Linked DNA regions of Homo sapiens. The protein of the gene in region 1 interacts with the protein of each later gene in a pairwise test. Each region holds a gene or a part of one and is shown on either strand. Other genes may lie near its edges.

Region 1 (7,027 bases):
ATGGGAAGATGGCATTGGATTAGAAGATGGCATTACAGGGTGTGAATGAAGTTCTTAACAAAAAGCGAATAGTCTGCGATTTATCTGTAGATACATGGCCACAGAGCTGAGTCATCCTAGAGCAAACCTCTGGAGTGGAGAGCGAACTACTTCATTCCCCTCCCTTAGCCTGGGCCAGAGAGACTCCAGCTCTGCCTTCTCCAGCCAAAAAATCAAAGGCAGATGGGAGAACAGCCTTCAGCTTTGGATAACGATGAAATATCTGGCACCACTGATGAATATTAAACTTTCTATAACCAAAACATCATTTCTAAGAGTTTTAAGAATCTGGCCAGACATTGTTGATGTGTTTGGCCTTCTGATCAGTGTGAAACACAGAGCTGTCATTAGGGGGAGAAAACATCCTCCAATTCTCTGGTATTCGTATGGGTTTTCTGGATGATTTATACGCTCGTCCCTTCCAGGTTACTAACCCTCAAGATGTGGGAAGTTTGTGTTCTGAGCCAGGAGAGCTGGCGAGACAGACTCCCCCAGCAAGAATTTAAGCAGGGGAGAGAGAATTATTATTCTAAATCTCTGTCTGCATGTTCTTGCCAAGCAAGGAGGAAAAAAACAAAACAAAAAAAAAACAAAAAAAAACCGTGTGGATGTCATAAACCTTGGTGGTGTAGTTTGAGTTTCTGGTGAGGGAGGTTCTTACTTGGATGGACTTACTGACCCTTGTTTTTACTGTAATGTAGGAGAAGGACATGTTTTTGTCTGGGGCTATGGAATTCTTGGGAAAGGTCCAAACCTAGTGGAAAGTGCCGTCCCTGAAATGATTCCACCCACTCTCTTTGGCTTGACGGAGTTCAACCCAGAAATCCAGGTTTCCCGCATCCGATGTGGACTCAGCCACTTTGCTGCACTGACCAGTAAGTTACCAAGCCCGGTGGCCCTGGTGTGAGCCCAGCAGAGGTTCTCTGTCTCCAGTTCAACCCCAAACTGCGGGCAGCTCTCAGGTTCCACCCATCCAACAGAACGGCGCCTTTGTACTGATAACTCAAGCAAGGGCTAAGCCAGAAGTTGTTTGCCTCGAGGTTGTATAATGTCTTGTTTTCCCCCCCTGGAGTTTTAATTTTGGTTCGTTTGGTTTGTGGGTAGGCTAACGTGAACGTGCATTTTCTCAAGAGAGCACCCGTCGGTGGTAGGAAGGGGCATTGCTAGTACGTCGGGTGCTGGAGGAAACCAGCAGAGGCTTGGCGGATCCATGGGTGGGTGATTAGGAAGTGAATGTGTGGGGCTTAATCCCATTCCCTGGCCGAGCCCAGACCCTGATCTGACCCAGGATATGGGATGGCAAAAGGCCGATTTGTCAGACTGTCCCGTGGTTTCACGGAGGTAAATCTACCGATTTCTCCAAAGTGCCGGGGTAGAGAATGATGAAAGGGGAGAGCAAAATGGAGGTTTTTCCCAAAGGCCTGCCAGATTACAAAGCCACAGAATATCCGCTTACCCTGCAGGGTAAGGGTAAGGAATGTGTCCTTTTCTTGGTTACATCTCTTACTCCACCACAGTTACCGTGGGTTCAATTTGCTGCTCTTTAGTTGACTCGAATAGTAAAACTGTCCTGAATTAATTTCATTCTGTGATTCTCAAGTAAATTAGTTATTTCCTTGCAATTAAAAGAATCTTTTCATCTCATGGCAAGTAATTGTTTTCTTTTTAAACATCCAGGCCGGGACAGTCAGTTGGTGTCATCTTTGGTTGAGTTCTCTGGCCTCATTCCCACGTGGGGCCTGTCCCAGATGCTCACCCTCTGTACCAGGGTCCTAACTGCTATTCACTTATTGTCTGAATTCCAGGCTCCAGAGGCCGTCAAACAGGCAGGCCTGGGTTGTTATGGCTGCCAGCTGGAGTTTTATCTGGCTCTAGGCTGAAGCACTGAAGTGGCAGTGGTCATGACTAAGCCAGAGAATTCCTGGCCACTGCCCAGCCAGAGTGGCCACTTGCATTTGCAGCTGAGTGTAGGTCTCATGAATTCTTTTTTTTTGAGTTGGAGTCTCACTCTTGTTGCCCAGGCTGGAGTGCAATGGCGCGATCTTGGCTCACTGCAACCTCCGCCTCCCGAGTTCAAACGATTCTCCTGCCTCAGCCTCCCAAGTAGCTGGGATTACAGGCACACACCACCACGCCCGGCTAATTCAGTGTCATGAATTCTTAAAGCTATTTTGATTTGATAAATAAGAGTCGTATGGACTAATTTTGGGGGAAACAAATATCTACTTTCCAGAAAGTTCTTAAGGCCTCAACTATGGGCAGAGACACATGTTTAGAAATCTGTGTGAAGCATTTGACTAGAGCAGAGGCTTTTCTATTTGCCCTCATGCCATGTAGCCATTTCAGGTCACAGCGAAATGAAATTCCTTTCTGGATTTCTCCCCGAGACTTAACAGGCCTCCTTCTAAGGGTGAGTTACTGCCTGTTGGTAGACAGAGCCTAGCTGTCTTCCTGCCTGTGTGCCTGGCATTTGCAGATAGCCATCTGGGAATTAGAGTTGGTTGGTTTATCCTGTGGTCTGCTAGCATTTTGGGGAGCCAGGCCGAATTGTTCTATTAAACACCTAAGGGCTAGCTGGGTGCAGTGGCTCATGCTTGTAATCCCAGCACTTTGGGAGGCCAAGATGAGAGGATCCCTCAAAGCCCAGGAGTTCGAGACTAGCCTAGGCAACATAGTGAGATCCCTTTTCTACAAAAAATACAGAAATTAGCTGGGTGTGGTGGTGTGCGCCTGTAGTCCCAGCTACTCTGGAGGCTGAGGTGGAAGGACTGCTTGAGTTTGAGAGTTCAAGGCTGCAGTGAGCTATGTTTGTGCCACTGCGTCGCAGCCTGGGCAGCAGAGTGAGACCCTGTCTCAAAAGCAAACAAACACACACACACAAAAACTATCTAAGGTCTGAGTGTGGAGAACAAGGGGCATGCTTAGATCAGGGGCCTAAGACAGCTTGTAATTATTCCGTACTTCATCAGCCCCAGGTCTTGTAGTCCTGGCTTTTCCATGTCACTTCCTCTGCCTCCCATGACCCAAGCCTTTTGCCCAACAGCTGATGGTGACATGGGCCCAGGAGTGCCCCAGCTGGTGCAGACAGAGTCCCACCTGAAGGCCGGGCTAGGAGAGGCCATCTCCTGGGTTGACCTCTTAAACAGCATCTTGTACTTTTTCTTCATGACAGTTTTTACAGTTTGTAAACATATATTAAAATCATCTGTCTGTTCCGTCTCTGGCCAGTCCCCAGCTCCTGGAACACAGACCTAGACCCAGCACAAGCAGGCACTTGGTCATTAGATGCCCTGTGGCTGAATGCTCCCAAGATATGGACAATCAATCCAGGAATGACAAATTGTCTTACTTTTCACTGTCAAATCAGGAAGCCCAGGGTGTCGCCAGGATTTGTGGAAGGCAGAGTTTGGTGGCACACGATTGTGGGCGGGGCACAAGGGGTGAGCAGAGTGGGCCGTGTGCATCAGTGACCTCCAGCCCCGTGCACCACCCCCAGACCCCAGCTCCATGCACCACCCCCAGACCTGTCCACCACCCCCAGACCCCAACTCCATGCACTACCCCCAGCCCTGTCCACCACCCCCAGACCCCAGCTCCATGCACCACCCCCAGCCCTGTCCACCACCCCCAGACCCCAGCTCCATGCACCACCCCCAGCCCCGTGCACCACCCCCAGACCCCAGCTCCATGCATCACCCCCAGCCCCGTGCACTGCCCCCTGCCCCATCTTCATTTGAGTGCTCATCTCCCACGTGGGTGGATGCAGCAGAAGTCCTGGCCGTGGATGTGTTTTCGATATGGGGACAGCATCTCAGACCCTTACTTTTGCCTTCAAAGAAAGCATGAACGCCTGGTAAAAGCTGAACAGTGGGCTCTGTAGGTATCTGGTTCTAGAAAGCCTGTTCTCATGACCCATCCTCTCCTTGGAGACTTGTTCTTCACACAGTCCCAACCAACCCCTGTTTTCCTCCCTTTGCAGACAAAGGAGAGCTGTTTGTATGGGGCAAGAACATCCGAGGGTGCCTGGGAATCGGTCGCCTGGAGGACCAGTATTTCCCATGGAGGGTAAGGCTGGCCGGGGAGGTCTTGAGAATGGATGCTAAGAGTAGAGTCACCTGACGTCACTGCAGACACCTCGCGTGCAGATGGGCCAGGACGAGGGCCATGGGACCTGCTCCCCCTTCCGGGTCCTGGCTGCACTCCTGCAGCGCGGCATGCTATGTCATTGCACACTCTGTGGTGACACCCATGAGATACCCGTGGTGCATCTGCATGGTGTGATGCGTGGGGGAGTGACACCAGGCTTCTTGGGGTGCAGGAGCTGGGTCAACCCATCCCGGCCCACTGACTGGGAGGTTGGAGGGAGTAGCCCACTCAAGCATCCAGTCCTATAAGAAGCCCTGTCGGAGGCCATCCTTGGGGTGGATCGGGGAAACAGAGGCACGATGGTGCAAAGGCTCTGGTAGGGTGCCATGAGGCTCCGGAGAGGGGGAGATATTGGATGAAGTTGGCACGCTAGAAGCTGTTTACAGAAGCCCATGTGGGGGAATGCTTCACAATGAATTTAAAAGAAAGCAGGATGTTTAATATTTAGATGGCCCAACCGCAGCTATGAAGTGAAAAAATAAAGTCGCTTCCTTAGGGGCGGTAGTATGCAATTAGACAAAAAGGCTCCTTCCAGAATTACAGGGGAAGAGACGCTCATTCTAAAATTGTAGTTTACCTTAGTGTTGTTTACTAAGTCAGTTCTTTAAGGCATTCTAAAAAAGGAGGTTTTTGGGGTTTTTTGAACATGAAACATATGTTCATGGTACAAAAAAATGCACTATGGAAAATGAGTCTCCCACCACCCAGTTTTTGTTCCAGAGGCAGCCACTGGTCCTGATTTCTTTATGTTCCTTTCCAGAGATAGTCTCTGCATAGAGACTGGTGTGCATGCGTGCTTTGTGTGTGTGTGCCTGTGAGTACATACATGTGTGTGCAGTGTGCATATGGGTGTATTTTATCAGAAGGTTGGATTTTAATTTGTTTTGAAATTGTGAAAAGCGTTTTTAAAAAGGACTTGCACCAGGTGTGGTGTCTCACACCTGTAATCCCAGCGCTTGGGGAGGCCCAGGTGGGTGGATCACAAGGTCAGGAGTTCGAGACCAGTCTGACCAACATGATGAAACCCCATGTCTATTAAAAATACAAAAATTAGCCAGGCATGGTGGCACACGCCTGTAATCCCAGCTACTTGGGAGGCTGAGGCAGGAAATCACTTGAACCCGGGAGGCAGAGGTTGCAGTGAGCCAAGATCAGACGCTGCTGCACTCCAGCCTGGGCAACAGAGGGAGACTGTGTCTCAAAAAAAAACAAAGGACTTGCAAAAGAAATGTGTATATATATATGTGTGTATATATATATGTGTGTATATATATGTGTGTGTGTATATATATGTGTGTGTGTGTGTATATATGTGTGTATATATATATGTATGTATTTATATGTGTGTGTATATATGTGTGTATATATACACACACACATATAAATATATATACATATATAATACATTTATATTATACGTTTATATATATTAAATATATATATATATATATTTTTTCCAAGACTATCGGTGGAGGCTCTGAGAAAGCAAGTTGAAATGGAGACTTTAACTTTGTTTTTTTGTTTTTGCTTATTATGAGACAGGGTCTCACTTTTATCACTCAGGCTGGATTGCAGTGATGTGATCACAGCTCACTGCAGCCTTGACCTTCCTGGGCTCAGGTGATCCTCCCACCTCAGCCTCCTGAATAGCTGGGACCACAGGCGTACACCACCACACCTGACAAATTTTTTTATTTTTAGTAGAGATGGGAGTCTCACTATGTTGCCCAGGCTGGTCTCAAACTTCCGGCTTCAAGCAATCTGCCTCCCTCAGCTTCCCAAAGTGCTGGGATTACAGGCATGACCCATCACGCCCGGGCGACTTTAGCCTTGTTGGAAAGCTGTTTGTATAATAGAGTTGTTCCCAAGGTGGTGGGGCTTGCCGGCTTTCTCCTGAGCCTGGAAACTGCCGGTGTGAGGAACAGAGAGTCGGGCAGTGGGTGTGGCTCAGATAATGTGAGCATCAGTCATCTACATGCCCACTTGCTTTCTCACTGACTCCTCTCTTCTCTCACTTTGCCCTTTCTTTCGAAAAGGACTTCCTTCTGAGGGGGGAACTTGGGAAACAGTTAAAGCAGCCGGGTTTTGGGTGAAAGAACGCTGACGAGGGTCTGCCCCCCGCCCTCATTTCCTTCAAATCAGAGTGATCAGCCTGAGATTTGACTCAGGTCACGTTGCCCCTGCCATAAGGGCATGTGCAAAGCGCTGGTCCCTGTGCGGGCAGGGAGTGGCCGGAGCCCGATCCCGTTGACATTCCATCTGGGTCACTTGCCCTGGCTCGCCACACACCAAGTGTCCTTCTGGTCATTTGCTTTTTATTTTTATTTTTATTTTATTATTATTGTTTTGAGATGGAGTCTTGCTCTGTTGCCCAGGCTTGAGTGCAGTGGCATGATCTCAGCTCACTGAAACCTCCACCTTCCGGGTTCAAGTGATTCTCCTTCCTCAGCCTCCCTGGTAGCTGGGATTACAGGTGCATGCCACGACGCCTGGCTATCATTTGCTTTTTAAACACATTTGTGCCTTTGGGAAAAGAGCACCCCAGCCTGTCCCCGTGACGGCGGCATTTGGCGCCAAACCATTGTCCTTCCTCTTGCACATTCAGGGAGCCCCTAAGGGTTTGTGCACGGAGTGGCCTCGACCCCTGTCCTCTTTGGATTGGGGTGGGAGAGTCCAGTCCCTTCTGATGACTCACTTAAAAAAAAAATTACAAGTGATTTTTCTTTTCTTTGTTTTGTTTGTTTGTTCTTTTAGACAGGGTCTTGCTCTGTCACCCAAGCTGGAGTGTGGTGACAGGATCTCGGCTCACTGCAGCCTCTGTCTCCCAGGTTCAAGTGATCCT
Region 2 (7,027 bases), on another chromosome or scaffold:
GTAGGTAAATACAAAATTGCACATTAAATCAAGCTAAAATTATTTTTTAAAGGGAAAAAGGTCTAAACCAAAGTGATCTTACTCACCAGTTGTGGGGATCAACTGTCCATGCAATAATGACTGTCCAAGCAAAGATGGGGTTCCAAGAACAGGCACCTGGTAACCCTTTAGAAACAACCACAAATAAACAGAAATAGTTAAAAAAAAAAAAAAAAAAGAGGTAAGAACAAAGCCAGAAAAACAAAACCCTGCTGTAAAAAAAATCCCAAATTAAAGCACCAGTAAAATTTACCTTCTCTTCCATAAGAGCGGTAATTGCAATTGAGGAGGTTCCCTTTGAGTGCTCTGATGCAAGAGCTGCAGCTGGCAATATTTTATTATCAGAATCCCTTTAAAAAACATAAATTATAATACATTAAAAATTATCAGAAATGGACAATTAAGAGTAAAAAAGTTTGCTGCTGTTTACCCATCACCTGCAGTTAAGATGAGTTAAGTCAAAGATGATGAATACTTCTGAGGAAAGTGAGAGAAGGCTGAAACTTTGAAGAGTTCTCTATATGTAGTAAGTGGAAAAGTAAAATGAAGGACCTCCTTAAGAAGATACTACAGTTATGACAGAAATCAGTTGCAAGAATAGTAAAACTTAAAATCAAAGTCTGGCCTATGAAGACAAAAATCCCCCTAGGATTAAGAGTTAAGTTTTAGCTCTAGTTCTACCACTAAACTGAAAGGATAATCTTGGGTCAGCCATAGAACTCTCTGGGCCTATTTCCACTATCAACCAAATAAATTCCACCAGATCAGTGGAATTTCTTAAATGTAAATGTAAAGGTCTCATCCTAAAGATTTTGCTTCAGTGTGTCTGAAATGGGCCTCTTACACCTTTTTTTTTTTTTTTTAAAGAATTTATGAGACATTAAACTACATGGACAAAAGTCTCATTTCTGAAGTGGTAGGCTGTGAGTTTTCACTATTCTCCTACATAATAATTATGCTCCAAAACAATCACTATTCCTGACTTCTCTACTTACCTGTGTTTTTACCCCCTCTTCTCTACCTATCTAAACTGTTCTTAGTTCTACTCAAAACTACTCCTATCCAAAACTATCATTATGATCACAAGTGAATTCTCCCACCTCTGTTAAGTTCAGAGCTGTTATGGTATATGGAACATTCAACGTTTAATAGGGGCTGGTTGGCAACCTGTGTAGTATTTGACCTCAGGATGCTTAATCCTCATTTGCCAAATCAATCACGTTTGTTTTCCTCTTCCCCCAATAAGACTAAGTCACTTCTTACAAGTCATCCCACATTACTGAGCACAGTGGTCCACTAAGAAAGCTGTTAAAAGTGATAACCAACAACAAAACACTACATCATTGACCTCATTTGGTTTCTAACAGTGAAAAACACACAGGCTTACCGAAAAGGTCCATCTGATTTTTCTGAATGAACTGATATGGATACTGTTGCAGTTATATCAGGTACAGGAGCTGGAGCAGAAGACGGATTTCCAGACACAGGAGGGGCCAAGGAAGACTGATTAGAAGTTAATGAAGATATAGACGGAGCTGGGTGAGTTGATGAAGATGTCACTGGAATCATAAGAGGATCTTGTTGTCTTGATATCGGAGATCTCATCAGAGGTTGTAGGTTCCTCTGAATCAGTGGTCTCGGAGGTGGTATTGGGGGTGGTGGAGGAGGTAACTGTTTTCGTAGTCTTTTTGTATAGCCAGTTTCATTTTTGAAGTTATTTACAGCCTACAGATACCAAGCATAATAATGCAGAAAAATGTTATGCAGTATTCACTGAAGTACAGTTAAATCAGTTAAAAAGAATTTTTTCATAAAATGGATACAGACAGTTACCTGTCGTAAAAATTTATTGGCAATTAAAGCATCAGGAGAAACATCATTTTGATGACACGTCGGACATGTGTGCTCATCTGATTCCAGGAGTGCTGTTCTTATACCTATGTATAAGATTTCAAATATTAATAAAAGCATAGTAGGAACTCAAAGTGTTTACGAAATGAATTAAAAGGATGGTCCACATTTGTTCAGTTACATTACTGTTTTCCAAGCATGTCGTGCTAATCATTTCTTAGATTAAGAAACTTAAGTAAAATCTCTCATCTTACAGTACTCCTCTGCTCTTTTCTATATGACCTATGCTACGCTAAAAAGAAGTCACAGCTGGGTGTGCTGGCATGTGCCTGTAATCCCCACTCCTGGGGAGGCTGGGACAGGAGAATCACTTGAGCCTAGAAGTTCAAGGCTAGCCTGGGGCAAAATAGCAAGGATCCCCCACCCCATCTTTTTTTTTTTTTAAACAAATGTCTGAATTGAGAGCAAAAGCACTCTTTCTCAAAGACTATTCTTTGTTTAGCTAGTAACTGGAATATTGTAGAAAACAAAAGAGAAATATAAGATAGTCTAGAAAGACAAAAATTTTACATGGCTAACTTGGGGTTTTTATTCAGGCAAGGAAATGAGAGACCTACAGCACAGTACGTGGGAGCAACACTAAATTACAGATACGAAGATTAAGCTTCAATGTAGTAAAACTCCAGTAATACCAAGTGGTATGTTAAATCTAAGATATAATCTGAAACAAGTCTTTAGCAACCTCTTCTTGACCTTGGTCTTCACTGAAGAGGTCAAAAAATAAAGATTTACAGGTATCCAAAGGGGATGGGTTCCAGAACCCTCTGAAGATAACGTCTGTAGATGCTCAAGTCACTCAACTGCCCCAAAGGCATAGTATTTGCATATAATACTATGTACATCCTCCAGTATACTTTAAATAATCTCTAGATTGCTTGTAATACCTGCTGCAATATAAATGCTATGTAAATAGTTGTTATACTCTTATTTTAAAATCTGTATTAGTCTTTACTATTATTTTTTACTGTTTTCTTGCCCCCAAATATTTATGATCTGTGGTTTTGAATCTGCAGATGCAGAACCATGTGTATGAGGACTGTATATTTCAAAACTACCTTTAAAAATGAAAAAGGCCAGAGCAGGCTTGAGCAAATTTTCAGGTAACACTGATTTCTTCTGTGTAAGAAGGCACAAACTTAGGATAAGTGGCAGGAAACAACTAAGTGCTAATATAAGTGATTTAAAAAGTCACAACTGCATGGTAAATGCTGGGTAATAAATATGTCTACAGATGTCGGGCGCGGTGGCTCACGCCTGTAATCCCAGCACTTGGGGAGGCCGAGGTGGGCGGATCACGAGGTCAGGAGATCGAGACCATCCTGGCTAACACAGTGAAACCCCGTCTCTACTAAAAATACAAAACATTAGCCGGGTGTGGTGGCGGGCACCTGCAGTCCCAGCTACTTGGGAGGCTGAGGCAGAATTGTGTGAAGCCAGAAGGCAGAGGATGCAGTGAGCCGAGATTACACCACTGCACTCCAGCCTGGGAGACAGTGAGACTCTGTCTCAAAAAAAAAAAAAAAAAACAAAAACTGTCTACAGGAATCAGGTGTTAATACACTTAGAAATATTAGGATAAGCTATTCACAATCCAGGAAAAAGATTTAGATACCACTTAAAAATATTTCCAGAATTATCTAAGGCCCAAAAAAGTTTTAAAATTCTGGATACCACTTAAAACATACAGGAAACAAAAAGTCTATATTAAGAAAAACACCTCAGTATAGTCACCCTGATGAAGGTACAGAAGTCAATTCTAGAATTTAAAAGGACAAACAGGTTATTGTTTAAAAAAGATACAGCAAGAAAAACAGACTTCTCACTACTTAATGCTCATTGATCAACACTTGTCATCAACATTATTTATTTTATTATTAAAACATATGAGGTTGGGAAGAGCCATTCCAAGTAAATACAAATATTCTAAAATATACATCTTCCAAGATTCAGCACTTCTTACATTCATCACAGTAACTGTTTCCACAGCAGGGAATCACAACAGCATCAGTCATAATATCCTTGCAGATGAGACACAACAATTCATCTGGGATAGGATCATCTTCTTCTGAGGAAGAAGATGGCTCCTCTGGTAAGAAGGGAGGTTTCTCTTTCTTCCCAATTGCATATGCTTCTCTGTAAAAGAAAGTTTTCATGTTTTACCATTGTTAAGAAGGCAGAGTACTCATGCTACATGTTCTACTATAACATAATGGGAACACATAATTCAGCGCAATGCCAAATTAGTTTAGACAAGCACCATATCTTCTAAAATAAGGGAGTAATTATGTACAACCTAACCCTAAACAAAGACACAAAAGTCTAAACAAGCATAACAAAAAGAAGCAAAGAAATGCTACAAAAACAATAAAAGGATCTTAGAACCCGTCACTCTTAAGAACTGAGGGCCAGAAATAAAGCGAAATGTTCTGTGCCATAAAGTTCTATTTAAGTGACAAAGACAAGACTTGAATTTAGACAACACCATAATCACAATTTTTCCTACTCTATCAAGTTTCTTGAAAAAAATAAAAATGAAAATTAAAATTAAAAATCCCAAAAAATCTCCCCTTCTCCATAACCCAAAAGTCTCTCAAACCTGTGAAGGTATTGGAGTAAATGCCACAAGACGGGAAATTAAAATTAGTACTGACATTATACAATTAAGGAAAGATAGTTCAAGGGAAATATTATGTCATTACCACACAAATAATTAATAAAATGAGATACCAAAACCCATGATCTACTTATTAGTATTTTAAGAGAGGTTAATCAATTTATAGTCAATTAAGAAGCATTAGTGACTTAAATGATCAAAATCGGTGTTACAAAAATGTAAAGTAACACCTCATTAGACATTCTAGGTCCAGTTTTTTGTAGAAATGCATTTTGCAGAAATGTTGGGCATTAAATATAGTATTAAAAAATAAAAATAGCTATTCTCAGACTTGTCACCACTGCTTCTACACCCCCATCTTCTCTGTAATCAGGCAAATTTGCAAAACACAGGAATCCCTAGAGAAACCCTTTCTATTTCATTCAGGAACAGAGTGTGTTTATCTCAATGCTGAAAATGAAAGAATCTCGGCTGTACAGAGTAGGGTACCTTAGGTGTGTTATTTGTGTTGCAGTTGCTCCATAGACATCACCACGATTCCAGAAATAAGTATCAATTTGCTTATGCCCCATTGTTCCCAATTTGTGAAAGAGGAGTCTCCCACTGCCCAAAAGAGAGAAAAAAGAAAAAAAAAAAAAAGAAAAAAAGAGGAGAACAGAGGATAGAAAAAGAAACAGAAGAAGAGTCTGAGTTGCTTATCAGTGGTGTTAGTGAAGAGGGTGAAAGTTTCATTTAAAATATTTAGATTCCCATCTTTCCCCAGTATTTGCTGTGTGTCTGGCACAATTGGGCATTTGTATTTCAGCATTCAAAAGCAATGAAGTTAATTATTAGTTAGGGTTTACAGGTGATACTAATTTTTCCAACACAAATTTTTACTTAAAAATTTTACATAATATAGATGAAGCGGTCTGCTCTTAATTGTGTCTGTAAAAATAATCAATTTCAAGCTAAAGTTATTTGGAAACATCTATGAAATGTCTCTGAATTAGAAACAGCATAACAACAGACTGTTCAATGATGAACCACAAAAACACAGGATGGTGACTGATAAAAAATAGATGGGGGTGAAGTTGAGGAAGTGAGCAGGGTTGGGAGTTTAGGAAAACATTCTTATCTGTGAACGAAAACACTATTTGCTGAAGTACATATTCAAAAACACAAGATCTTTTCAATATCATTCTATGGCATAGCTATTTTCATCATCATCCCCACCTGCTCACTACACTACACTTCAACAATATTTATAGCATGAAGCTGAGGAACTGTTCTTATATATGTATGTATTTTTTCACTGAGAACATGAACACCTAATTCTGTAAATTGATGCCCTGAGGATCCCCTAACTTCACAATCTCTTGGACAACCTGTTAAAAATGTAGAATCAGGGTCTTATCACATAACTTCTAAATCAAAATTGGGGGCGGAGCAACCAGGATCTTTTTTTTTTTTGCCCAAGGTCCCTCTACCTGGCCAGCCTTTTAACATACTTTTGTAGGAAATTCTTATGCTCAACAAAGTTAGAGAACAGCAGTCCAAAGAACACTTAATATTATGCTGTATAGTATGTGAGATCACAACTGTTGAAGGTAATCAAAAAAGTAACTGACTACATTAATAAAAGCAGATAAAATGGGAGGTTATCTAGTTGAACCCTGCCACTGAATTTTCATGTCTGTCCATTTCATTAAAAACTGGTTCATAATATAAAATCTGAATACACATTAAAAATGGGCATTAAGGGCCAGACGTGGTGGCTCATGCCTGTAATCCCAGCACTTTGAGAGGCCGAGGCGGGTGGAGCACAAGGTCAGGCTAACACGGTGAAACTCCGTCTCTACTAAAAAAATACAAAAAATTAGCCGGGCGTGGTGGCGGGCGCCTGTAGTCCCAGCTACTCAGGAGGCTGAGGCAGGAAAATGGTGTGAACCTGGGAGGTGGAGCTTGCAGTTAGCCGAGATTGTGCCACTGCACTTCAGCCTAAGGGACAGAGCGAGACTTGGTCTCAAAAAAAAAAAAAAAAAAAAAGGCATTAAGGTGTTTTATAGAGCTATAGTTGATCTGAACTAGTGGTTTATAAAATAAACCTTACTTGAGAATCTTAAGACTCACATGGCATATCCAAACTTATTCAAGCTACTTCAGTATTTCATTTATGCCTGACACTTAAATTTGCCTCAACATCATGCAGAGCTTTTATTCTTAAGCCTCCTGTTTCTCAAAATGATTACAATCTGTTTTGTTCACTTAAAAATGCAAGTAGCATATATAATAAGATTATGTGGGAGTATGTATGTGAATGAGGAAGAAAGCAGGGAATGACAGAAAAAGAAAAAATTAGAAGACTACAAGGGAAGTGGCACTCACTGGTAACAAAAAATCCCCAAATCCATTTTAAATTTGCTTTAAATGGAGCAGACTGCAGCCTCACAGAAATGCAAGATGTAGAGACTAATGGCTTTG

Evidence for each region. Proteins that work in one complex are often made in the same cells at the same time.
Region 2: the proteins of RCC1L (region 1) and RBBP6 interact in a two-hybrid assay, tested with the Homo sapiens proteins (one study listed by BioGRID and IntAct).

Annotation. Positions count from the first base shown.
Region 1 is NC_000007.14:75,049,788-75,056,814, reverse strand, and holds part of RCC1L (RCC1-like G exchanging factor-like protein), read left to right. Parts: intron 1-90; coding exon of another isoform or gene 91-110; exon of another isoform or gene 111-302; intron 303-740; coding exon 741-914; intron 915-4,018; coding exon 4,019-4,104; intron 4,105-7,027. UniProt on the Homo sapiens protein: Guanine nucleotide exchange factor (GEF) for mitochondrial dynamin-related GTPase OPA1. Activates OPA1, by exchanging bound GDP for free GTP, and drives OPA1 and MFN1-dependent mitochondrial fusion. Plays an essential role in mitochondrial ribosome biogenesis.
Region 2 is NC_000016.10:24,556,561-24,563,587, reverse strand, and holds part of RBBP6 (E3 ubiquitin-protein ligase RBBP6), read right to left. Parts: intron 4,084-7,027; coding exon 3,911-4,083; intron 1,977-3,910; coding exon 1,873-1,976; intron 1,765-1,872; coding exon 1,427-1,764; intron 390-1,426; coding exon 293-389; intron 166-292; coding exon 87-165; intron 1-86. UniProt on the Homo sapiens protein: E3 ubiquitin-protein ligase which promotes ubiquitination of YBX1, leading to its degradation by the proteasome.